Linked DNA regions of Homo sapiens. The protein of the gene in region 3 purifies or fractionates together with the protein of the main gene of each other region. This does not show direct contact. Each region holds a gene or a part of one and is shown on either strand. Other genes may lie near its edges.

Region 1 (7,597 bases), on a different chromosome or scaffold from region 3:
AGTGGGGAAGGTGACCGGTGAGAAGGGGGTTTCAGAGGGCTCTGAGCTTAATACAGCGCATGTACGTACCCCTCCCACTCAGGAGCCCCACTGTAGCTAAAGCAGGCCCTCATTGCTCGCCTGTGGGGCTGGCTGCTCCTGGTGGTCATTCTGGCTCTCAGCCTGCCCGGAACTAGTTGGGAACAAAGACTTGCCCCTCACCCTCACCCTGGTGGCAGAACCTGTGAAGTTAGTGGAGATGGACTTTGTTCTCCAGAGTCCTCTAAGCTCTCTCCTCCCCTTCATCCCTTCCCCCAAAACCTCCTCTCCAGGCACCTACCTCACCTATCATAATGAATGGGAAAAACACTATTAAAAAATGACCTCTCTCGGGCTGGGTGACTGAGCCCTCAAGCCTGGGCAGGATGGGTACGGTGTCTCTAGAATCATCCCTGCGGCAGACAGCAGCCATCTGGCAGAGGCGCTTTCTGTCCCTCTCAAACACAACCTTGAGTGTATGCTAGAATCACCTGGGGAGCTTTTAACAACTACACTGATGGACTCAGAGATTGTTTGAATTGGTGTGGGAGGCAGTCAGGCAAGGGAATTTTTCTAAAGTTCCCCACGGTGTGCAGGCAGGAGTGAGAACCACAGGGTCTGGGTGGCACCATCATGGCGAGAATTCTAGTAAGGTAGGCAGAAGAATTTTTGGTTAGACAGAACACCTAGGCCTGCTTCTATCAATGAATCCTCAGACCAGCTCTGCAAGGAGGTTATCCCTGCTGTGCAGATGAGGAACCTGATGCCCAAAGAGCTCATCTGACTGACTTCCTCAAGGTCAGGGCCAGGACTAACCAAGTCTCCCTGACTCCAGTCCAGGCGTGGTGACTCACACCTGTAATCCCAGCACTTTGGGAGGCTGAGGCAGGCGGATTGCTTGAGGTCAGGAGTTCGAGACTAGCCTGGCCAACATGGCGAAACCCCATCTCTAGTAAAAATACAAAAATTAGGCGGGCGTGGTGGTGGGCACCTGTAATCCCAGCTACTGGGGAGGCTGAGGCACAAGAATCACTTGAGGTTGCAGTGGGTGACACCAGCCTGGGTGACAGAGCAAGACCCTGTCTGAAAAAAATAATAATAATAAAATAAAAAATAAATAAGTCTTCCCGACTCCAAAGCCCACGCTCTGTCCTCTGCCACGCTGCCTCTGTAATGCTCTGTGGACTGAGGCGGCTGCCTATCAGGGGTGGCCTCTGCCTGTTAGAAAGGGTCCAGGGCCTGCTCCCTTTCCTCTTCTGCAACTCGGGAATCACGAGGGGAGGGTTCCTCTGGTGACCTGGGCTGCTTCCCCTGTGTGGCTGCAAACAGCTGCTTACCTGGTCCTTCCTCTGGGAGAGGCGCTGGTGGCAGCAGCCATAGAGGGCCGCCACGAGGAGCAGGAATGATGCCATGCAGACGATGGTGATGATGAGGGGCATGCTGAAGCGGTCCTCGGCCTCCTCCGGTGGCCCCTGGTCCCCTAGCTTCATGTCACTGACCCCTGCCTGCATGGGAAGTGGCAGAGAACAGGCTGGGGGCATCCTCTCTCCCTCAGCCCCCGGCTTCACTGTAGAGCCCCTCCGCTTGCAGTCTGCTAGGGTCCGTGCCGCCGCCCTCTTCTACATGCAGGCACATGACGGGGTTCCTCCCCACAGAGAGAGGGGAGTAACCAGACCTCCCACAAGGGGCTTCGGAGCCACTCTGTCCCCACACTTGGGGGGCCGCTTACCTCCTTTAGTTCATCCCATTTGTCCTTCAGCCGCTCGTACACATCCTTGGCAGGGAGCTTAGCTGTGGGAGAGGGAGACGATGCCCAATGGCCCAGCCCAGAGCGAGGCAGTGGGGGACGGGGACTGCGCCCCAAGAGAGGGACGCACCGTATCTCAGTCTCCTGAGTGTCTCTCGGGTGACCTGGGAGGGGGTGTGGCTTGACAGTTCTTAGGGAACTGAAGGGGCACCACTGTGACCCACCCTCCAATGTGGCTTCTGCATGCCCCCCATTCCCACCCATGCAGGCCCCAGCCCAGGCCCCCTTGCCCTCCACTCACTGTGAATAGTGATTTCTTTGACGACCACGGTCTGACTTCCTGGAACAGATGCCAGCCGTATGCCGCACTTATCTTGGGCCGGGTTGAAGGTGGCTTTGACTGCTCGGCATATCAGTGAGATCAATTTCTCATCCGAAGCGCCCCCTGCCTATGGTGGGGAGAGCGCAGGTGACTCCGCGGGGAGCGTGACAGCAGCCTAGGCCTGTGGGGCTGCCCTCCCAGCTAAGGTCGGGACAGTGCTGTTGCTGTGCTAGAACCTGCCTCCCTCTCTAGCCCCAGCTGGTGCTCCACGCAGGCCTGCCAGGAATCAAGGGTTGCATGCTGTTCTCCTGGGCCAGTTCCTGCCTCCTCTGTCTCGTTCCCATCAGCCCGTTCTCCGCACTGTGTTTATCTGGTCTACGCTTGCACCTTTCATTCCTTTCACCCTAGTGCCTCTTTTTTCCCTCCAAGCTGTTTGCGGATTGGGGGTTGTTTTCATCTCCCTCCCTAGAACGGGCTAGAGAGGGGGCACTGCACAGCAACCCTACCCCACAGCCCGCAGGGAGACTCCAATTCCCCCTAAACTCCCATTCACCAGCCTTTCATGCCCAGTTCGGAGAAATCAGGTGGGGAGGCTGCAGCTCTCAGCAGAAGGGTCTCTACCCCCAAAGCTGAAATACATGTGCCCTTGCCCTAGGCAGAGCCTCTGGCTCTGAAGCCACGGACAGGCTGACAGGGAAGGGGCTCCACTGAGTAGGGGAACAGGTGGGATCTTGAAGCTACCCCTAGGATATCTTGGAGGGGGTCTTATTTAGCTCTAAGAACAAAGATTGTGGCTGACGTGGCTTTAGAGCTGAGGATGAGGGGAGAAGTGTGGGCAGCATGTATCCAGTCCTGCCATGCCATCTAGGGGCACCCCTCCCTGGGGCTTCTCTGACCTGATTCTGGAATAAATGACTAAGACAAAGAAAAGGACTCTAGGGATAGCTTAGCACAGAACCCATACAAACCACCCCTAAGGTTTCTACCAGAATTTCCTTAGGCTTAGTAATTCCCCACCCTGACATCAGGAAGGGATCCAGGGTTTTCCATCTTCCTTTTCTAGCAAAGGGAAAAAAAAAAAAAGTGTCTCACAACAATCACACAGCCTACCAAGCTACATCCAAAAAGAGGGTCTGAGGAAGGGCTGGGCGGGCACCTGACTGTCCCCAGAGCCCATATCATGCAATGCCTGCCTTGTCCAATAAGCCCAGCCCTAGGAGAGCACTGCTCCCTTTTAAAACTCTGGTCTAGATGTAGGCTTTTGTAAAGTTCACTTGGAAAATGCCGGCATAATGGACACCCAAAAGAAAACAACTGCAGAAAATTCAGGCAGCATTAAAGTGTTGTAAGCCCAAATTCTCCATCCTATCTATAGACACCGTGTTCAGGTCTGTTCTAGTTCTAGTTCCTAGGGGGTGGCTGCAAAAAACCGGCACTGACCGGGAGAGGGCAGCAGTGAGCCAGCCATCTCCAGCACCCGCCGCGCTCGGCAGTTATTTACTGAGTGTGCACAGCGCACACTCCCCAGACCAAAGCCTTTGGACCCATGGAGACCGGTGGCCTGAAGGCTGCTCACACACTGCTACCTCCCTCACACAGGTGTGCTCACACGCACGCTCACCACCCAGACTGGAGAAATGCTGGCAGTGGCTCCTGCATTCCTGGGCCCTTTTCTCTCCCACCCATCCCATCAGCTCCTCAGGTTAGAGGGAGAATCTCCCAGCACTGTTCGTCCATCAAGGCTCTCAGATAGTCCACAGACCAGGAAATGTGAAGCCACAGACGATTAAAGCAGACAGACTACACCTCTCATTTTCTCTTGCTTTTCTTTTCTTTCTGTAAAAACAGGGTCTTCCTATGTTTCCCAGGCTGGTCTTGAACTTCTGGCCTCAAGCAAACTTCCTGCCTCAGCTTCTCAAAGTGTTGGGATTACAGGTGTAAGCCACCACACCTGGCCTCACCTCTCATTTTCAATTGAGACATCTGAAACCCAAAGAGATCAACTCACCAAAGTCACTCCCAGAGCTAGGGGCAAACAGGAACTAGGATCAGGGTCCCTCAACTCAGCATACTGGAAATAGTCACACAGTGAAAGCCGAGGAAACCGGGGGGTGGGAGGGGGGGGTCCAGTCCTGTGGGTGTGTCCTGACTTAGAGAAGTCTTAAACCTTGGTCTGTTGCTCTGTAAGATGGGAAAGGACCACTTCCTACTAGGAAGAAATGAGGGCCGGAAAGCAAATGCACCTTAGAAAGATGTTTAAAAATGCACCTAGAAAGAACATACATTCCCTCTCCCTCCCTCAGCCCTGCTGTGAGCCTGCACCTGGCGGCTCAGATCAGCAAGCTACTCACACAGAGGGTGTTTCCTGTGAGGTTCAGGACGAGCTGCTTCTCACTCTGTGTCTGTGTCTCAAGATCCTCACACTTTGCCTGGAAGAAGCCACTGAGATTAAGGTTTGGGCTAATAGTCATGGAATCTTTGACATTTCCCCCCAACTAAGGGGTGACCCAGATAGGAAAGAGTTCACGGCAAGCTGGAGGCATGGCTGGACCCATTCCAGAGCCAGGTATGTCCTGGCTGCGTGGCTTGAGGGCAGCTCAAGCCAGGACCAGGCTAACCAGGGAGAGGGAGGAGGGAATGGGTAAGTGCTGCTCAAAGCCCCAGCCAGGGGCCCTGCGTTGGAGGAAAGAACAGAAAACCTTGTCTTAAAGCCTCTTCTACCCGAGTCTGGGTTCTCCTACTTGCCCCACCCCTGCTGGAGTTACCCAGTTACTCTCATGAGCCACAGTGGGAGAAGGTGTTTTGGGGTATCGGTGGGTAGTTGATGCTGCTGTGGGGCTGGAGCTCATGGTCTCTGGCAGGGTAGGTGTTCTCAATGCCGTTGCCGGGCTCGTGGGCTGCACTGTCTCCTGGGAGGAAGGGGCCGTAGAGCTGGCTGGCATCTGACTGGAGGTCTGTTGAGTTCTTTGCGAGATAACCGATGACGCTGTCATTGGGAAAACGAGGGTAATGAGAAAAGATGAGTGCACCCTTGCGAGAAGAGGACAATCTTTTCTTGCTCTAATAGTTTTCCCAGGTTCTTTGGTCTTACCTCCCACAGAGACGGAAGAAGTGGACTCCTATGACAAGCCAGTGGAATAACCCGGCAAAGTCACAGCAGCCGCAGCAAACGTTCACTGAGCACTTAACTTTGTGCAAGGGACTGGGTGCCTCAAAGGTACTTTCCTACTGAATCCTCACAATCCTCTGGGGAAGGAATCGGCATCATCCCTATTTCATAAACAAGGAAACTGAGGCTCCGAGGGGCTCAGTGATTTGCCCGAGTTCCTGTGCCAACAATGGCAGGGCAGGGATTCGAAGCCAGGATTATCTCAGCCGGAGCCCGCACTCCTACTGTGTGGCACCCTCCTGTGGAGCGGTGGCCTGCTGACTTCAGACCATATGCCTCTGATATGCAGCAACATCACCAGGAGCGCTCAGAAACTCTGGGTCCACAGGTCTGAGATGGGCCATGATCCTAAGGCTCTTGATCCATAGGTAGATTTTGAAATTGATTTACTAGGTTAAGACAAGCTCTTATAAATAATAAGTAAGTAAGTAAGTAAACAGGTATCGGCCGGGCATGGTGGCTCATACCTGTAATCCCAGCACTTTGGGAGGCCAAGGTGGGCAGATCACCCGAGGTCAGGAGTTCAAGACCAGCCTGGCTGACATGGTGAAACACTGTCTCTACTTGAAAAAAAAAAAAAAAAAAAAAAAAAAATTAGCTGGTGTGCTGGTGCACACCTGTAGTCCCAGCTACTCGGGAGGCTGAGGCAGGAGAATTGCTTGAACCCGGAGGTGGAGGTTGCAGTGAGCAGAGATCATGCCACCGCACTCCAGCCTGGGTGACAGAGCGAGACTCCATCTCAAAAATAAATAAATAAATAAATAAATAGGTATGAAATAGAAACTATTCCCCTCTCAGGTTCAAGCAATTCTCCTGCCTCAGCCTCCTGAGTAGCTGGGATTACAGGCGCCTGCCACCATACCCAGCTAATGTTTGTATTTTTAGTAGAGACAGGGTTTCGCCATGTTGGCCAGGCTGGTCTCGAACTCCTGACCTCAGGTGATCCACCTGTCTCGGCCTCCCAAAGTGCTGGGATTACAAGGCATGAGCCTTTTCAGAGCCATCACGCCTGGCCCTGAAAAGTTTCTTGGTGCTTGAAGAAAACCAGGCATTACTTACGTAGGGTGGTGGTCATCCCCGGGCTTGTGAAGGTGTAGCCAGGGATAGCCACAGTGCTTGAACTGCTTGAAATTTTCATAAGATGGTCATGTCCCGAGCTTGTTGGGGTGGCCACAGGATGCGTCGAAGTGGGTTGTCGGGGGCTAAGTGGACTTGTAGGGTGAGGGGTCGTCAGATGTTCTGCCTTAGTGGATGTGAGGTCTGTGGTCACACTGTGGCTGCTTTTCCCCCCAGAGTTTGTTGTATCTTCTGCTCCATTCTGGCTGCTTGTGGTGTTAGGTTTAGCTGTGGCTGTGGAGGTTGCAACTGTAGTGGTGTCTGCACTTTTTGTGCTCTTGGGGCTCTCGATGGTGGTAGTAGGGTTGCCTGAGCCGCCTCCTCTAGCCACGGTAGTGTTGACTGGGCCTGAGACTTGCTGAGCCAGGGTTGTAGTCCCCGGTGAGTCACTGGATACACCAAGGGTGGTCGCCTTGACCGAGGCCAAGATTTCGTTGGCCTTGGAAGTGGGGACTGTGCTCTGCTGGGCTGTATCTGTAGCCATGATGGTGACACTGGATGCTGGAGTCGGTGCTGTTTTGTTAGATGAGTCCGTAGTAGTCTGGGTTGCTGTTTGTAAAGATAACAGAGAATGGAGTTAGGGCTGGGAGGCTTCCTCACCACGCTTCTCCAGCTCTTCCCCAGGATTCAGAGGCCTTGCTCGCAGCCCTGCTGTCTGCCTTGCTAAAGGCCTGGGTCTTTGGTGAATCCAGAATTTTCGGAGGTTCAAGAAACCTCTTTTTTCTGTCTTTTTTTTTTCTTCTTCCTTTTTGTGGAGAATGGGGTCTTGCTATATTGCCCAGGCAGGTCTTGAACTCCTGGGCTCAAGCTATCCTCCCGCCTCTGCCTCCCTCAGAGCTGGGATTACAGGCGTGAGCCACCACGCCTGGCATGAAACCTCTAAGAGGGCAGCTTGGAGTGCAGCAGGGTCAGAAAAGCAAAATTCTGCTGAAGGCGAGCCCAGGCCAATGAGGCCCACCACACGTGGAGGCTGTCATGCATGCCCTGCCCTCCCCGTCCAGCCCCACACACATCCCCTTTAAGTTTCTCAATATGCTACCCCAGAACCAGCTGCCAGGAACACCTCTGTCTCCTCCTCCCCAGCTCCCAGGCACGTGGCCCACAGAAAATTCCACAGACTAATGCTTCCTGAACTGCCCTGGCCCTGTTCTGAGCTTAAGCAAAAAAGACATGGGCCCTGTTCTCATGGAAGTTATATCTAGGAGAAACTGATGATAAACTGAAA
Region 2 (7,597 bases), on a different chromosome or scaffold from region 3:
CCACGCCCAGCTAATTTTGTATTTTTAGTAGAGATGGGGTCTCTCCGTGTTGGTCAGGCTGGTCTCAAACTCCCGACCTTGGGTGATCTGCCCACCTTGGCCTCCCAAAGTGCTAGTGTTACAGGTGTGAGCCACTGCACACGGCTGTGTGCAGGATCATTCTTTTGCCTGGTGTTCGAGACTCCACACAATATTCCCTGAGCCTGCCCTTCCAACCTTACTTCCCAAGTTATTTTACTCCTCTGTAGCTATCTGACACTCTAGCCACCCCAGCTTGCCCAGGGGTGCACCCTGGCTTTGCCAGTGCCGCTCTGCACCCTCAGGTGCCCTTACCCCATGCACCCTTCCGTTCACATGCTGCCATGCAGACCGGATAGGCAGGGCTATGCTGTGCTGACAAAATACTCCATTCCAAACTCTCAGGGAAGTAATAATAAAGGTCACCTGTCCGTTGCACACTGTACTAGCAGGAGGGCTCTGCCCTGTCTGAGTCTGCCGTAGGGGCTTGAGCTGGAGAGGCTCTTCTCTCTGGAATGTTGTTGGTCAGTGTTGCAGTTGGAAGAGAGCCTGGAAGCTGGCTTTTAACCCTCTGTGCACTTTCCCTTGACCATTACTAGTCGCATTGTTGTGCCTGATATCAAGGGGTGAGGAGGGGTAACCCTGCGTGCTCTGAGAGGTGGAGAGACCTCACTTCTGATGGAAGCTGGACACGCCCACCCCACCCACTTACCCCTCAAGTCCCCTTAACTGCCATATCTTGTGAGGTGGTTCTTGGTTCTCTCTTCCTTGTCCCCATCAACCCAACTCAGGCTGGAAATGAGCATTTCTTCCTCTGGACTCCTGTAACCCTTCATCTCTTCTCCCTTCCTTGAATTATGGTGATTTCATGCATACCTTTCCCCTTTTCTTGCCTGTATTCCAACCATCTTTTCCTCCTTCTATTCTTAGTATTGCCTTTTCCACATAACAGTCTCATAAATGGCTAGATGGTTTGTGGGGTGCAGAAGCAGGGAGACTAGGTGTATATAGAGCTAGTTCAGACAAGCTGGGGTAGGGGCCCGAGCTGTGGCAGCAGTGAGGAAAGGGGGATTGCAGAGATGGAGCCATGACCAAGCTTTGCATAAATGAGGAAAGCACAGTGACATGGAAGTGCTGTGTGTCAGCAGAAGAATACCATGGAGATTTGAGTGCTATTTCCTCACAGCTGCATGTGCCACCAGAATAAAGTGTACCCACTGGATTGTGGTGTATTACTTAAGTATCACCATGATCACATAAATCACCATGGAGCTTTCGAAGCACAAAAAGAATGCCTTTCAGAGGAAATTGTTATTTGAAGGAGTTGGCTGCTGAGTGTTAGAAATCATCTAGGGTTAGAAATCATCCTCAGTAACAGAGGGCAGGTGAGCTACAAATTGACTAGAAGAAACATGGCCCCTGTCATCCCTGGGCAGGGACACATGCATAGCTATTTTAAGATTAGGTTAAACTGATTCTGTTAGCTGCAGGTCTGGATCTTCCTGAAACATGGGGGCCAGGGCAGGGGGCAGCTGCAGCTGTTTAATGTGGCTCCTCTTGGCTTCTGGACACTTTATGGGCTGTGTGGCTGCTGGTGACACTGTTGGACCAGAGAAGTTCAGATCCTGCTATACCATTACCCTTTTACAGTCGAAGCTCTCATATTCATTTGGGAAGAACAATAAAAATTTCCAGTTAAGGAAATGCTTACAGACAGTTGGTGCTTGAACTAGCTCAGCAGCAGCAAGGCCACATCCCTACCCAGGGAAGAAAGGCAGAGTCCCCAGCCCAGTGCCTTGAATGGTATCTCTGCCTCAACTTCCCCAGAGTTCCAAAAAGTCTGCTAGTCTGCTGTGGGTGTGGTTCGTTTAAGACAGGGTCTCACTTTGTCACCCAATGAATGCCACCCCTTAAGTAGGCAGAGCCATGCCCATCCTATAGATGAGGAAGCCGAAGCTCCCAGGGTCACTCAGATAGTGTGGCTAAAGCTAGGTCATTCTAGCGGGGATTTTTACAAGCTGTGTTAAAAATGTCATCAGAGGTAAGGGCCGATCTCAGTATTTGGTTGGAGTAATTAGTCCATTTAAAAAAATCTCATTTTGAACTCATTTTTTCTAGATAACCTCTTTGTGCCCAACCAGAACGGATACTACTGTCACTCTCAGACAAGCTTGGATAGAGCCCAGATTGACCTCAACGGTCGGATCCGTAATGGCAGTGTCTACAGTGCACACAGCACCAACTCCTTAAATAATCCTCAGCCCTACTTGCAGCCCTCGCCGATGTCGTCCAACCCTAGCATCACCGGGAGTGACGTCATGAGGCCTGACTACCTCCCGTCCCATCGGCACAGCGCCGTGATACCCCCGTCCTACCGCCCCACCCCAGACTATGAGACTGTGATGAAGCAGCTCAACAGGGGCCTGGTGCATGCGGAACGGCAGAGCCACTCGCTGCGAAACCTCAACATCGGCAGCTCGTACGCCTACAGCAGGCCCGCGGCGCTGGTCTACAGCCAGCCCGAGATCCGCGAGCACGCACAGCTCCCCTCGCCAGCGGCCGCACACTGCCCGTTCAGCCTGAGCTACAGCTTCCACAGCCCGTCTCCCTACCCCTACCCTGCCGAGCGGCGGCCCGTGGTGGGCGCGGTCAGCGTGCCGGAGCTGACCAATGCGCAGCTGCAGGCGCAGGACTACCCGTCTCCCAACATCATGCGGACGCAGGTGTACCGGCCACCCCCACCCTACCCGCCCCCCAGGCCCGCCAACAGCACGCCAGACCTGTCCCGCCACCTTTACATCAGCAGCAGCAACCCCGACCTCATCACGCGGCGCGTGCACCACTCGGTGCAAACGTTCCAGGAGGACAGCCTGCCCGTGGCGCACTCGCTGCAGGAGGTCAGCGAGCCCCTCACCGCCGCGCGCCACGCGCAGCTGCACAAACGGAACAGCATCGAGGTGGCCGGGCTCAGCCACGGCCTGGAGGGCCTGCGGCTCAAGGAGCGCACCCTATCCGCGTCGGCGGCAGAGGTGGCGCCGCGAGCCGTCTCGGTGGGCTCCCAGCCCAGCGTTTTCACCGAGAGGACACAGCGAGAAGGGCCGGAGGAGGCGGAGGGCTTGAGGTACGGCCATAAGAAGTCCCTGTCGGACGCCACCATGCTAATCCACAGCAGCGAGGAGGAGGAGGACGAGGACTTCGAGGAGGAGAGCGGGGCCCGGGCGCCTCCTGCACGTGCGCGCGAGCCTCGGCCCGGCCTGGCCCAGGACCCACCTGGCTGCCCTCGCGTCCTGCTCGCCGGGCCCCTGCACATCCTGGAGCCCAAGGCCCACGTCCCAGACGCGGAGAAGAGGATGATGGACAGCAGCCCCGTCCGCACGACCGCAGAGGCCCAGCGGCCCTGGAGAGACGGGCTGCTGATGCCCTCCATGTCGGAGTCCGACCTCACCACGTCAGGCCGCTACCGAGCCCGGAGGGACTCTCTGAAGAAAAGGCCGGTGTCGGACCTTCTCTCTGGGAAGAAGAACATCGTGGAAGGGCTCCCGCCTCTAGGGGTAAGCCACGCGGCGAGCAGTGCCGGGCCAGGGGACCGCGCGTTCGCCCTGGCGCTTCTTTCACTCATCACGTCCCGTGTTTTTCAGCTCCTCTTGTTCTTTTAACGTTCTTCATTCCCCCACGTCACTCTCTTTTTGTCTAATTCTGAACACATTTAAATTTATGGAAATCATGGGGATCCACTTGAATTTTAGTGGTTTTACTGGAGATAATTATTATAGATGAAGTGAAAAGGTAAATTCACAGGGTTTTGTCGAAATGGAAAAGATGAATGAAATGTTTTAGTAATGCACTGTTAAGGGAAAGACAGTTAAGATTTCATTACTTTAGCCACGATTGCTTTAGCCACCCATTAAAAATACTGTGGGTGATGTGGCACCCCAGGGGTGCATTTGTTTAGTTTGCTCAAGAGATATCTGAAAAAAGCATCCAGGAAAGTGTACCCAATCCTAATATAATTCTCCAGGTTGGAGTGTGTGTGGATACAGCTTACATATCTTGGCCGTGATTCTCCAGAGTGATTCTGGAGTTGGGAAGGTGGCACTTTGTTAAGGCAAATCCTGAGACGTCCAGGTTTCTTAAATTTAAAAGAAAGATGAATTCAGCTGAGAATCTAAGGAAAGTCCCCGGTAGAAGATGCAGTTCTTTAATATTCAGCCTAATAAATAAATATGAATTAAGCACTTTTTACCTACTTTGAAGCAAAATATAAAAAAGCATAGTAGCATCATCTCTAGCTACCATCCTTGGAGCATTTGCCATGGGCCAAGCATTTCCTCTACTTTTGTGGCCTATTTACAGTAAGCCTATTGTTATGCCTGTTTTACAGATGAAGAAACAGACTTAGATATTAACTAACTTTTCCAAGGTCACATGACTAGTGAGTGACTGAACTGGAATTTTAAACCCATACTTAGAAGCCCATTCTGTTATCATCTACACTGTAGATGTATGTTCTGCATTGAAGTATACTGTATATGTTCTATTAAGTCATAATTGCTTGTTGAAGCCTTGCTAGTCTTTCACTGAAACTTTTAAACTCAGTCCTTAACCTGGGACTAAGCATCTGCGGCCTTGTCATGAAGTGTGTCCACCGAAGTGATTTTGTTGCAGTGCTCAGGCTTCCAGCTCTTCCTGGCCCACATCTCCACTCCTCATGCCCTGCACTTGAGCCAGGCTAACTTGATTAGGGCCTCCATCCTATCTCCTGTTGGCTTCCAGTGTCCTGGCAACTAGGGTTCTCCTCCCCCCATCGCTGCTAAACTGCAAACTCCGACAGGACGGCTCATCTCAAGTGTGGTTCTGGCCTAGTGTATGACATCCTTTAAGATGCTGCAAACATCTTGCTAAACAGGAAAAAACGCACACTATTATAGTACTTATGAAAGAGATTAATGTACATAGACAAAAACTACTTAACAAAAAAAGTACCACAGATTTAAATTTGCTTTTTTTTTTTTTTTTTTTTTTTTAGAACAGTCTTGCCCTGTTGCCCAGGCTGGAGTGCAGTGGTGTGATCTCAGTTCACTGCAACCTCTGCCTCCTGGGTTCAAGCGATTCCCCTGCCTTGTGATCTGGCTGCCTCAGCCTCCCAAAGTGCTGGGATTACAGGTGTGAGCCACCACACCTGGCCTAAATTTGCTTTCTTTTAATAAGTTTTGGGTTTGAATTTTAAGTTGATTTTTAAATTTTTCACAAGTATGCAACATAACTCACATCCCTGAACAGTAAAGGCCAATGCCTTCAGTGGACACAGATTTAAGAGTGTAGGGAGCAGTGATTCAGGATAAGGTGTGGGTAGATTTTCCAAAGTAACTCTACCTGAATCCCTGAGCCAGCTGGACAGGGTCCTTTTATAGTTAACACCCTTCCCATTGCATTAAGAACGGTCTGTTTTTATGTGTGACTCACGTACTTTCCCCAAATGCTATCTGAGTACAGCTCAGTACTCAGGCCTATTTTATCCCTGTATGTTTTGAATGGGGTCTGGTAGGTTCAGTTAAATCTGAGGACTTTGATCAATTTGGTTCTCTTAAAAGAACTTTTCTCTCCCATTGACTTTTAAGACCACAATACTAGTAAAATTATGTGATTGGATTATGTTTTTGGTCCTTTTTGCTTAAAGGATTCTACTTAAGGAATGGGTATGGCAGCTGTGGTCACGAGGAAAGAGCAAAGGTCCTACAAGTTAAGAACGTTGGGGCTGAGTCTAGAGCCTGCCATTTGTTAGTTCTCTGTGACCACGGTCAGGACCCTTCATGCGTCAGAACCTCAGCTTCCACATCAGATAACCTCAGATCATGAGGACGGTCATCCCTTCGCTGCCTGCTTCGTGGCATTATGTCCCACATGCAGTTAGGCATGAAAAAATGCCTCCTGAATTACATGATTCAGTGTAACTGATTTTAACCAAAGATTTGCTTTTATTTGTTTTGACACTGATTACCTTGTAAAAGAGGCAGCCATGTGACCTCAGACAAGCTATTTAATCTGTGACTCAGTTTTTACATTTGTAAATGAGAGGACCCCAGAGAGTTGTTGGGGGGATAAAAATGAGGTTCTGGCACATTGAAAGAGATTAGTCAATATTAACATTACTGTGAGGTGGCATCATATATTTAACTTAATGGCTTTCAAGAGTGGAAGAGGCCAATTCCCTATTGTACCCTCTGACCTTTCATAGTAACATGGGGTTGCCATTATCTTAATCGTTACAACAAATTTCCTAATGTGAATTAAGGTTATGGAGGTTTAGTATTAAAAACAGTGAAATAAACTGTAGACAAGTAGGAATGATTTTAGAATTCTCCACCCATCTCCACCTCCAGCAACCTGATTGTTATCTTAAAGGCAGACTGGTTTGGGTGCTCATATATCTACATAAAGATTTTCTTTTTGTTGTACCCTTTAGTGCAGTGGTTCTCACATAAGAAATCACTGTGCAGGGTATGCATTAAAATCCTGTGCTTATATTCTAAGGGCTAATTAAGGCATATTCAAGGCTAGTTTTGACTACATACAACATTCTTCCAATACTGGCTTTTGAACTGACCTCACAGCCAATCAGCTTTATCCAGCGTGTCCCAGTGTGGGATATTTTGAGTCATTTTCAGGCAGAGAAGTGCCAGAGCTAGTTCATATTGACTAGCAAGAGCCGACTTAAATGTTCAGGAACCTTGTGAGCCAATTGATGTGACATTAACAGTTTGAAATTGGCTGTGATGGGAGTATTTACACCATGGATATGGGCAAACACCGATCAAAACTTCCTTCCAAGAGCCTGTTGTTAAATATTACCAGCACATCACTGTTTTCTGCACGTTAGAATCATTAAATTTCAGCCTAAGCAGGAAGTGTTTAGTCTGTATGCCTGTGTCTGGATATATCTGTCTCTTTCTGTCTAGGTGAGGCTTACAGAGGAAAGGTGACTTGCCTGAAAGAAGTTGGTCAGTTAGAGGCCAGATGTGAACCCAGGCCTCTGCTGTTTATAGTCTAGACTGCATTATGTGGGGAGCTCATGATCAAATATTAATTATAAAATTAAAAATTAATCCACTTAGCTTATTGAGTTAGGTACCAATCACAGTCTCCAATTACAGCAGCAATCTTTTAGGATTTTTTTCCTCTCTCACCAAGTTGCCTTTTCCCTCTGTTCTTGCACCATTATCATGGGGCTTCATGGCCTGTTACAGGCTGAGAGAGCTGGAATAACACGGATTTTGTTTACAGGGCAGAACCATTATTTTCCAGTTGGGGCTACTCATTATATTGATATCATCCAAGGAAGTGTAGTATATCCAACGAAACTTAGTGTTCTTTTTTTTTTTGGAGACGGAGTCTCACTCTGCCTCCAGGCTGGAGTGCAGTGGCACGATCTCAGCTCACTGTAATCTCCACCTCCCAGGTTCAAGCCTTTCTCCTGCCTCAGCCTCCCGAGTAGCTGGGATTACAGGCATGTGCCACCACGCCCAGCTAATTTTTGTATTTTTAGTAGAGACGGGGTTTCACCATATTGGCCAGGATGGTC
Region 3 (8,259 bases):
CTCCTCCAGAAAAGAAATTCCCTCCAGAGCTGCTTCAGGGACTCGGGCTGGAGAGGCCCACAGGTGGGAGAGGGGCATGGGCGCCTCAGATCTGAGAAGCTCCCTGAACCTGAGGCCCGCCCACCCCCGCCTCCCATCCCTACCTTTCCCACCGGCGCTACCACCTCGAGGGCCTCTGCCCAGTACCTAGGAGACCCCCGTGCCACCCACCGCAGCTACACCCCCTCCCCGCAAAGGCCCCGCTGCAAGGCTCCAGCAGCTTTAAGGGCTCTGGCTGTGCGACGGGCATCAGACACCCAGCCAGGTCCCTGCTCCCCTCCTGGCCCCAGGAGAGCTGCGGGGAGCCTGGCCCCTTGGAGCCCCACAGGCACCTGCTGTGGGCCTGGTCCATTCCTCGGCCTCCCTACCCGCAGTGCTCCCTGCAGGCCAAGTGACTTCCCGGCCTACAGGCGGAGGAGCAGACCCGAGCCGGACCTTTGAGGCTGGGTAGACCTTGGAGGTGGGCGGCCCATGCCCCACTTTCCACACTGGGTTGAAGGTTGAGCCCAGTGGAAGGGGCATAGACACAGGCGTTCAGGCCCCTACTCCTGCTACAACCTCCCCACCCTCTGGAGACAAAGGTGACCTGGAGCTCCCCACCCCCACGTCCACGGTGCCCTGACACCCCACTGTGGCCATTTCCGCCTTGCATTAGGAAAGGACAGAGAGGCTGTGGTCTGTGGGGGTCCCGAGAGGCAGCCACACATGAAGGGCCTGGCCATGCCTCGATGGAGAGGGACGAAGAACAGAGAAACAGCCCCCCAACCCTGACACTGGGGCTCCTCTGCCCAGGAGGAAACAGTGTGGCCCTGGCCAGAGTGGGGCTGACCTGGGGACGGGCAAAAGGCAGAGATAGTTATCCCAGCCCAGGTCTGGGAACAGCAAAACATCAGAGCAGGGCCAGACCTCCACTCTCCCCCAGGATCCCCTGGCCCTGGGCCAGGCAGTCCCCAGGGAGAGGTCACCCACCTGGAGCAAACCAGCTTTTTCCCTTCAGAGCCCTGGCCCTGGGCACCCTGTATGCTGACAGCCACCCATCTCAGGTACCCCTCTCCTCTGCCCCCACTGAAGTCTCACCTGAATGCAAGAACTGGAAGCCCCAGGAGGGTGGAAGCCCAGCACCCACCTGACCCACCATCTCTGCCCCCCACTGATGAGGGAACAGAATTCAAAGGGCATTGCTGCACAGGTGTCTCCTGGGACACAGGGCTATAAGCAGCACGCACGCCAGAGGAATCATAGACTGGCCACTCACGGCAGGGACTCCCACTCTCTCTGATGCTCCCTGGGGTACCCAGGCACTGGTGCTTCCTGAGCACCCCTCTTCCTGGAGCCCAATCTACCTGGGCAGGGGCCTGGGAACCTGTAACCAGCACCCAGAGGGTGCTCCTGTCCAGCCAGGCTGGGGAACCTCAGGCTGACCCACTCGGCATGCTGGAGACCAGGTGAGGGGGGCACAGCCACCCTGCCCACCTGCTGCTCCAACGCTCTCCCTCTGCAGCCTGCTCCCCCTTCTCCCACTGGCCTCCCCAGGAAACCACAGAACCTTCTGCATACAGCCAGGCTGTATTCCTTGTGGTCCTCCCCCGGGAGCCCCTGCAGCCCCTGCGGGAGGGACGGCAGCTGGGTTGGCCACCCTGGGCCGTGCCAGGCTTCTCCCCTTCCCAGCTTGGCAGCCTTGGCCACTTACTCACCCTGTTCATCAGACGGGCTGAGGCCCAGGGCTTGGGAGGCACCAATGGCAGGACTCCAGCTGTAGCACTGGCCCTGGCACCAGGTAAGCGCTTGCTGGAAGCCTGCTCTCATCACGCCTGGGGCAAATACAAGTCACCCAGACCTGTCCACAGGGCCTCAGGCCCAGGTGTGGCCTCTAAGTGGATGAACGACCGACCCCTGACCCACTGAACTCTGAGCTTTAGGGCCAGTTTGGGGGCCAGCCTGATGGGGGTGGAACAGGCCTCACTCTAGCCCGGCAGCAGGCATCGGGGAAGACTTTCCAGATGGCAGGACAGCCTGAGTGGTGCGCGTGTGACACAGGGCCTGCCTCCGCCCCACTGCCACCTCCCACGGGCCCCTCCCCAGTACCCTGACTGTGGGGTCATTTCTGGACGCTGTGAGAGACACGGCAGCCTGGAAACAGCTTCTCCCCAACTTTCCAAGGTGGCAGCCCAGGGAGGGCCAGGACAGGGAGCCCAGGCACAGCCCCCAGCCTGAAAAGCGTCACCTCCGGAGCCCTCTGGGACATCTTGTTTGTACAGCCTCCCAAACATTCCACCCAAAACAACATGTGCCGTCCCAGGCCACCTGCAGGCATGGCCGCCCTGACAGAGCAAGTTCATAGGGGGCAGGCACAGGCTGCCTCTTTCCCTCCAGTGCCCAGGAGGTGCTGCAGCCTCTGGCACGCCTCGGGGTGGGCAAGAAGGGCGTCCTTGAGGGCTACGGTCAGCATCACCAGCCCAGTGACCTGAAGCCAAACCCTGGCTGATAGCACCGCCTCCTCCTCTAGGAGACCTAACCCCAAACACCAAAGCCGAGTAGAACCAGCCCAGGGACAACACAGTCTGACGTCCCAGAGGGGAGGAGGGCCGCGCGCTATCAAAGGCTCACCCGGGGCGAGGAGCAGGAGCAGCCCGCGGCTGAAAGCCCGTGGCGGGCGTGGGCGCCCAGGGCCTGGCAGGAGGACTGGGGCAGCCTCGAGCTGGTCCGCAGGGAACAAGCAGGCTCTGGGCTGCAGAGCAAGGCCCACAGACGTCCCCTCCTTCCCAGGCACAGACTCAGCAGGTCTCCACAGCCCTGCCCACCCCTCCCACTTGCCCAGTCAGCACCCCGGGTTAGGGACTTCAGAAGGGAAGGAGGTTTGGGAAGTGAGAAGAGGCCAGCCGGGAAGACCTCTCTCGGTTTCCCATACCCAGGAGGCTTCGCTGCCCGCTGCTACCAGTGCACCCAATGGGCATGCAGTTCCTGAGCGGATGCAGAGGGAGGACCGAACTAGGGAAGGAGGCTGTACAGGTGCCGGAAAGGAACACGATGGCGGGTGTGGGGAGGGCGCTCACAGAGCCCAGCCCCACATCCGCCCAGAAGGGGGACACGAGGAGGGCGTCCCCCCAACCCGCTTCAGCGGTGAGGATGATCCAGACTTTGGCTGTCCGCATTTCCCGGCTCACATGAGTGGCCTGGAAGCACCTCCACCGAGCTCAGAGGAGGAGGGACGCAGGCTCTGGCCTCAGTTTCCCTGCCTGCGTCCGGGCCGAATGAGACGTAGGAGGGGGGCGCCCGGAACGCGCCTCGAGGGGGGGCAGGAAAAGGCCGGGATTCCGGGCCCCTCCTCCCGCCGCCGCGCCAGTTCTGCGCACCTGCAGCCGCGGGCTCTCCTCGCCGGCGCCCGCGCCGTCCGGCCTCTCCTCCAGGATCATCGCCGCACCCGCTGCGCTGGGGGTCCCTCGGGGTCAGCCAGCCCGCCGCTCGCGCAGCGCTCCGCAGCCGGGCTAGGGCCGCCCGCACCACCTGGGCCGCGGGCTCCTGAGTGCCCGCGCCGGTCCCCGACTGTCCCTCCTGAGTGGGGGCGGCCCGCGGCGCGGCTGGGCGGGGCACGGGTCTGGCGTGCGAAGCTGGCCATTGCCCAATAGGCGGCAATGCCGCTTCGACGGACAGCTATATCAGCCAACCAGAGTTCCAGGAAGGCGGGCTCTGGACGGCCAGCTCCGCCCGCCCGCGGGACGGTAACCCCTGGCAACCGCGGCCGGAACGCCCGCGGCTGGCTGGCAGGTTGTACTGCGCATGCGCCGCGGCGGCCGCTGAGCGTGCGGGAGAAGTTCGGGAAACGGAGAAAAAAACTATACGGAACGTCCCAAGCTGAGAGTCAGGGCGGACCTGGACTCGGCGCGCCTAGCTCCTCGGCTCCCTTTGCGGGGACTCCAGGAGTCTGCCCGCTCGCGCCGTTTCGTCCTGTCACCCCGGCAACGGGACCCTCTAAGAGGCTTGTTCCAAAAATGTTCACAATGGGGTTTTTAAAAACGGTTTTGTTAGGGACAAGTGCTTGTGTGAGTCCTCCGACAATGCCTGCTTTCTTCTCTCTGCCCGCGGAGCGGAGGCTCCAGGCCTGGCCCCAGTCCGAGGCGCCTCTGTCGGTGTCGTCCTGCTTCCAAAACCGGCCTCCAGAACCCGCCTCCTTCCAGAACCTCCGTCCAGAACCCGCCTCCCTCCAGAACCTCCGTACAGAACCCACATCCTTCTAGCACCTGCCTCTGGAACCCACGTGCTTTCAGAACTACCTGTTTGTAGAACTTGTTTCCAGAACGAACCTGCTTTCCGAATCTCTTTACTTCCAGAGCTTGTTTCCTGGACTGACCTATTTTCAGAACCTACTTTCAAAACCAGCTTGCCTCCAGGACCACCTGCTTGGAGAACTGGCCTGCAGCCCCAGGACTGGACGACCTGAGACTGCACAGCTCCCTGCGGGGCTCACCCGGCTGTGTGTGTCCTTCCGGGCCTTCCATACTTCCCTAGGTGTCTGGTGACTCCGGAGCCCGCTCGGATTTCGTGTGGGTCTCGCCTCAGCTCAGAACACACCCTTTGAAGAGCAGGAAGGCCAGGGCACAGGCGGTAACCACGGCTCCTGGTCATCAAGTTCCTCTGAAGCCCAGGTCTTGTCCACGTTCACTGCCCCACCACAGGCCCAGCGGAGCCTTGGAGCTGAGCCCTGGGATCATTCTGGTGCCTGTGCTCCCGGCTCCGCAACAAGCACACAGGAGCCTGTCATCCCCAGATCTAAATCCTGAAGGCTAAGCTCCGTGGTCTGCCGCAGCCATCTGCAGCAGGCCCCTCCCAGCAACAGCCTTCTCATAAGGCCCCTGCCAGCCACGCGAAACCTCCTGGCTAGGGCCTGTCTTCCACTCCTGGCCTTTTGAGACAGGGCCTCACTCTGTTCCCCAGGCCGGAGTGCAGTGGTACGATCACAGCTCACTGCAGCCTCCACCTCCTGGGCTCATGTGATCCTCCCACCTCAGCCTCCTGAATAGCTGGGACTACAGGCTTGCACCACCACACCCGGCTAATTTTTGTATATTTTGTAGAGACAGGGTTTCGCCACATTGCCCAGGCCCAGGCTGGTCTCAAACTTCTGGGCTCAAGCAATTCATCTGCCTCAACCTCCCAAAAGTGCTGGATTACAGGGATGAGCCACCATACCCGGCTTTTTTTTTTCTTTCTCCTGGCCTTTTGGGGCCCTTGAAGTGTCTGCTCCCTGGGAGCCCTTCAGCTTGTCGTCCACTTGGTGGGTTCCCACCCGTCCTTCTCACTTCTGCCTGAATCACACAGGCTACATGAGACCTTCACCCACCCCCTTCGCCAGCAGCTCTGTGGTTCAAGTTTCCTCAAGGTTAGGGGCTCCTGGCCATCTTACCTGTGGGCCTGAGCATGGGCCGATGCTTCCAAAGTTCACACTGGGTGCACTTGTGTGGGGACTTCCATGTGAGTCATCTCCTTGCAGGCTGCCAAGGTCCTGTACAGCAGAGACCCAAACCCTCTTAGCAGTCTTCAGAGTCAGCTATGTGTACAGGAGGCATTACCATATCAGTGACTGTCAGCAAGCATGTGTGACTGAAATGGTATCCAGTTCTTACGTATTTGTTTTGCAGGCTTCTTGGTTCAGCAGACAGAGGCCATTGGGAAGTTAAGAGAGGCTCTCAAACTTTGAGGGTCATAAGACTTCCCCTCCCTGCAGGGTGCTGTTTCCTGAAGGAAAATATTCAATTACTATTTTCTTTATTTATTTATTGAGATGGAGTCTTGCTCTTGTCGCCCAGGCTGGAGTGTGTGCGTGTGCGTGTGTGCGTGTGCGTGTGTGTGCGTGCATATGTGCGTGTGTGCGTGTGTGTGTGTGTGTGTGTGTGTTGGAGGGGGGTGGTGCTGCCTTTTTCTTTGCATGCTTCTGTGTTACTGGATTTGGCACAGCAAGAATGTATCACTGCACTCAAAAAATTTAGAGTTTCCTTTTTGTTTTTTTAAATTATTTTAGATTTGGAGGTACATGTGTGGGTTTGTTACATGTGTATTGTGCACTTCTGAAGTTTAAAAATTTAGGGGGAAAAATGAAAGGATGGGAGGTGAGAAAGTAGAGGAGAATTTTGGTGTGACAGGCAGGGAACTGGACAGCGGCGGGAGGGGCACGGCAGTGAGCGCCGGGACCTTTTGCAGATGAGGTGATAATTGCTGATGGGGCTGCTTTATGCTCGTTTTCTCTTTTGTAATTTATAAAGAAAAAAAAATTGAGACAGGGTTTCGCCCTGTTGCCCAGGCTGGTCTTGAACTTCTGAGCTCCAGTGATCTGCCTGCCTTGGCCTCCCAAAGTGTTGGGATTATAGGTGTGAGCCACTGTGACTGGCCTTTTTTTTTTTTTTTGAGACAGGGTGGCTCTCTGTCGCCCAGGCTGGAGTGCAGTGGTGTGATCACAGCTCACTTCACTGCAGCCTCAACCTCCTAGGCTCAGGCAATCCTCCCACCTCGGTCTCCCAAGTAGCAGGGACCGCTTGCATGCGCCACCACATCCAGATAACTTTTGTATTTTTTGTAGAGATGGGGTCTCGCTATGTTGCCCAGGCTTGTCTCAAACTCTGGGCTCAAGCAATTGGCCCACCTTGGCCTCCCAAAGTGCTGGGATTACAGGTGTGAGCCGCTGTGCCTGGCCTGCTTTATGCTTTTATATGGACCAGTACTTTGCAAGTGTGAGCCTGGCAGACTCTTGCTGCAACCAGGAACATGCAGATTTTCCAGATGGGCAGGAACCTGGGCTCCTTTCTGAGCCTCCACATGTCCTGGGTGAAGACCTCAAGGTCTGGAGAGACTGACTGACTCACCCAAGGCCCAATGGCTGTGAGCGGGAAGCCAGGACTCCTCACAGCGCCAGCTTCTTCCATGCATGCCAGCCCATCTGCAGAGCCCGGTCAAGCTCAGGGGAACGCCACCACTGAACCAGAGAGGCAGCCAGGAGGAGGGGGTCTAGATAGAGAAATGTGGAAAAAGCAGCTGATTCCAGAAATTTCCTGCTTGGCCTGGATTAGGCCATGCTGGGGACTGGCTGCCCCTTGCCCAGTGGGTGCTGGGGCATTCAGGCTTGGGGTCTTTTAGGTCAGCCCTAAAAGTTGATGATTTGATGCTGATCGCTGGTACTTACTTCAGCTTTCCTTCTGGTTGGAAGCCTTAATTAGTGGAGGTTGCTGACACTGTTTATGCGCATCGGTATTTTTTTAGAATGTGGAGTGGAAGAGGTGGGCTTTGGGGGACTGGCTAAACCCCAAGAATTTAACTGGCCGTGTATTTTGGCCACTGTTGCGCCTGTTAAGATCTTGGAGTGTGGGTTTGCACCTGTATTTAGAGGTGCACAAACCCACACAAATTCAAGGATAAATAACTGCAAGGCCCGAAGAGAACACGCTCTCCCGCTGCACGCAGGCTGCTCAACTGTGATGAATGGAGTAACAGGTACCACAGGGCGAGCAGGACGCCTTCATCAATGGTGGTAATAGCCACCAATGCATCATCTGTGGAGGCAACAGGAGGGACGGCTGGGGCAGAATCAACAGAACGTGAAAATGAATTGTTTGTAAATACAATCAACAGTGTTATGTTCGTGAGAAAGCCATTCATCATTCAGAAACCACCTTTAGTAAAAGATGCACCTGGCTTCCCGGTGAGACGGGGCCATCAATCCCTCCCCAGTCACAGGGTCAGCTCGGGGCTGCCTAAACCCCCAGAGAACAGACACACATATTTATTCTTATTTGAAAATAAGAGTTGTTAAAAAAAAAAAAGAGCCACTGAGAACATTAGCTTGCCGGGAGCATGGTAGAAGGAGCCACATGGGGACAAAGAGAGCTCTTTAAAGCCCTCATCTTCTGGGTGCCCTGCCAGGCCCTGGTGGGGCCTCCGTAAGCAAGGAGCACCCAGCCTGCTCTGGGACCTTCCCGGGCTGTGTGTGCTTATGTCCCTCCCGGCCGCTGAGGGACCTTCCCAGGCTGTGGGTGCTCATGTCCCTCCTGGGTGCTGAGTGTGCTTAGGGAGGGAGGGAGGGAGACGCCCATGGTTGGCCTGCTGGCTTCTGGAGAACTGCACTTTTCTGGCAAATAAAAAGAAAAGGATATGGGGAAGGGGAACACATGATTGTCCTTGGAATGTGGCAGAGTGGCCTGCTGTGGACTTTCCTCTGGTTGCCAGTTTCATTCT

The links. Proteins that work in one complex are often made in the same cells at the same time.
Region 1: the proteins of RHPN1 (region 3) and PODXL purify together in Homo sapiens (co-immunoprecipitation; 3 studies listed by BioGRID and IntAct, with this or other methods). This does not show direct contact.
Region 2: the proteins of RHPN1 (region 3) and PTPN21 purify together in Homo sapiens (co-immunoprecipitation; 3 studies listed by BioGRID and IntAct, with this or other methods). This does not show direct contact.

Annotation. Positions count from the first base shown.
Region 1 is NC_000007.14:131,504,513-131,512,109, forward strand, and holds part of PODXL (podocalyxin isoform 1 precursor), read right to left. Parts: intron 6,922-7,597; coding exon 6,316-6,921; intron 5,820-6,315; coding exon 5,724-5,819; intron 5,074-5,723; coding exon 4,853-5,073; intron 4,517-4,852; coding exon 4,439-4,516; intron 2,215-4,438; coding exon 2,067-2,214; intron 1,810-2,066; coding exon 1,748-1,809; intron 1,524-1,747; coding exon 1,356-1,523; intron 1-1,355. UniProt on the Homo sapiens protein: Involved in the regulation of both adhesion and cell morphology and cancer progression. Functions as an anti-adhesive molecule that maintains an open filtration pathway between neighboring foot processes in the podocyte by charge repulsion.
Region 2 is NC_000014.9:88,474,892-88,482,488, reverse strand, and holds part of PTPN21 (tyrosine-protein phosphatase non-receptor type 21), read left to right. Parts: intron 1-2,136; coding exon 2,137-3,569; intron 3,570-7,597.
Region 3 is NC_000008.11:143,364,181-143,372,439, reverse strand, and holds the start of RHPN1 (rhophilin-1), read right to left. Parts: upstream 3,565-8,259; 5' UTR 3,453-3,564; coding exon 3,393-3,452; intron 3,361-3,392; exon of another isoform or gene 2,647-3,360; intron 2,616-2,646; exon of another isoform or gene 1,743-2,615; coding exon of another isoform or gene 1,734-1,742; intron 1-1,733. UniProt on the Homo sapiens protein: Has no enzymatic activity. May serve as a target for Rho, and interact with some cytoskeletal component upon Rho binding or relay a Rho signal to other molecules.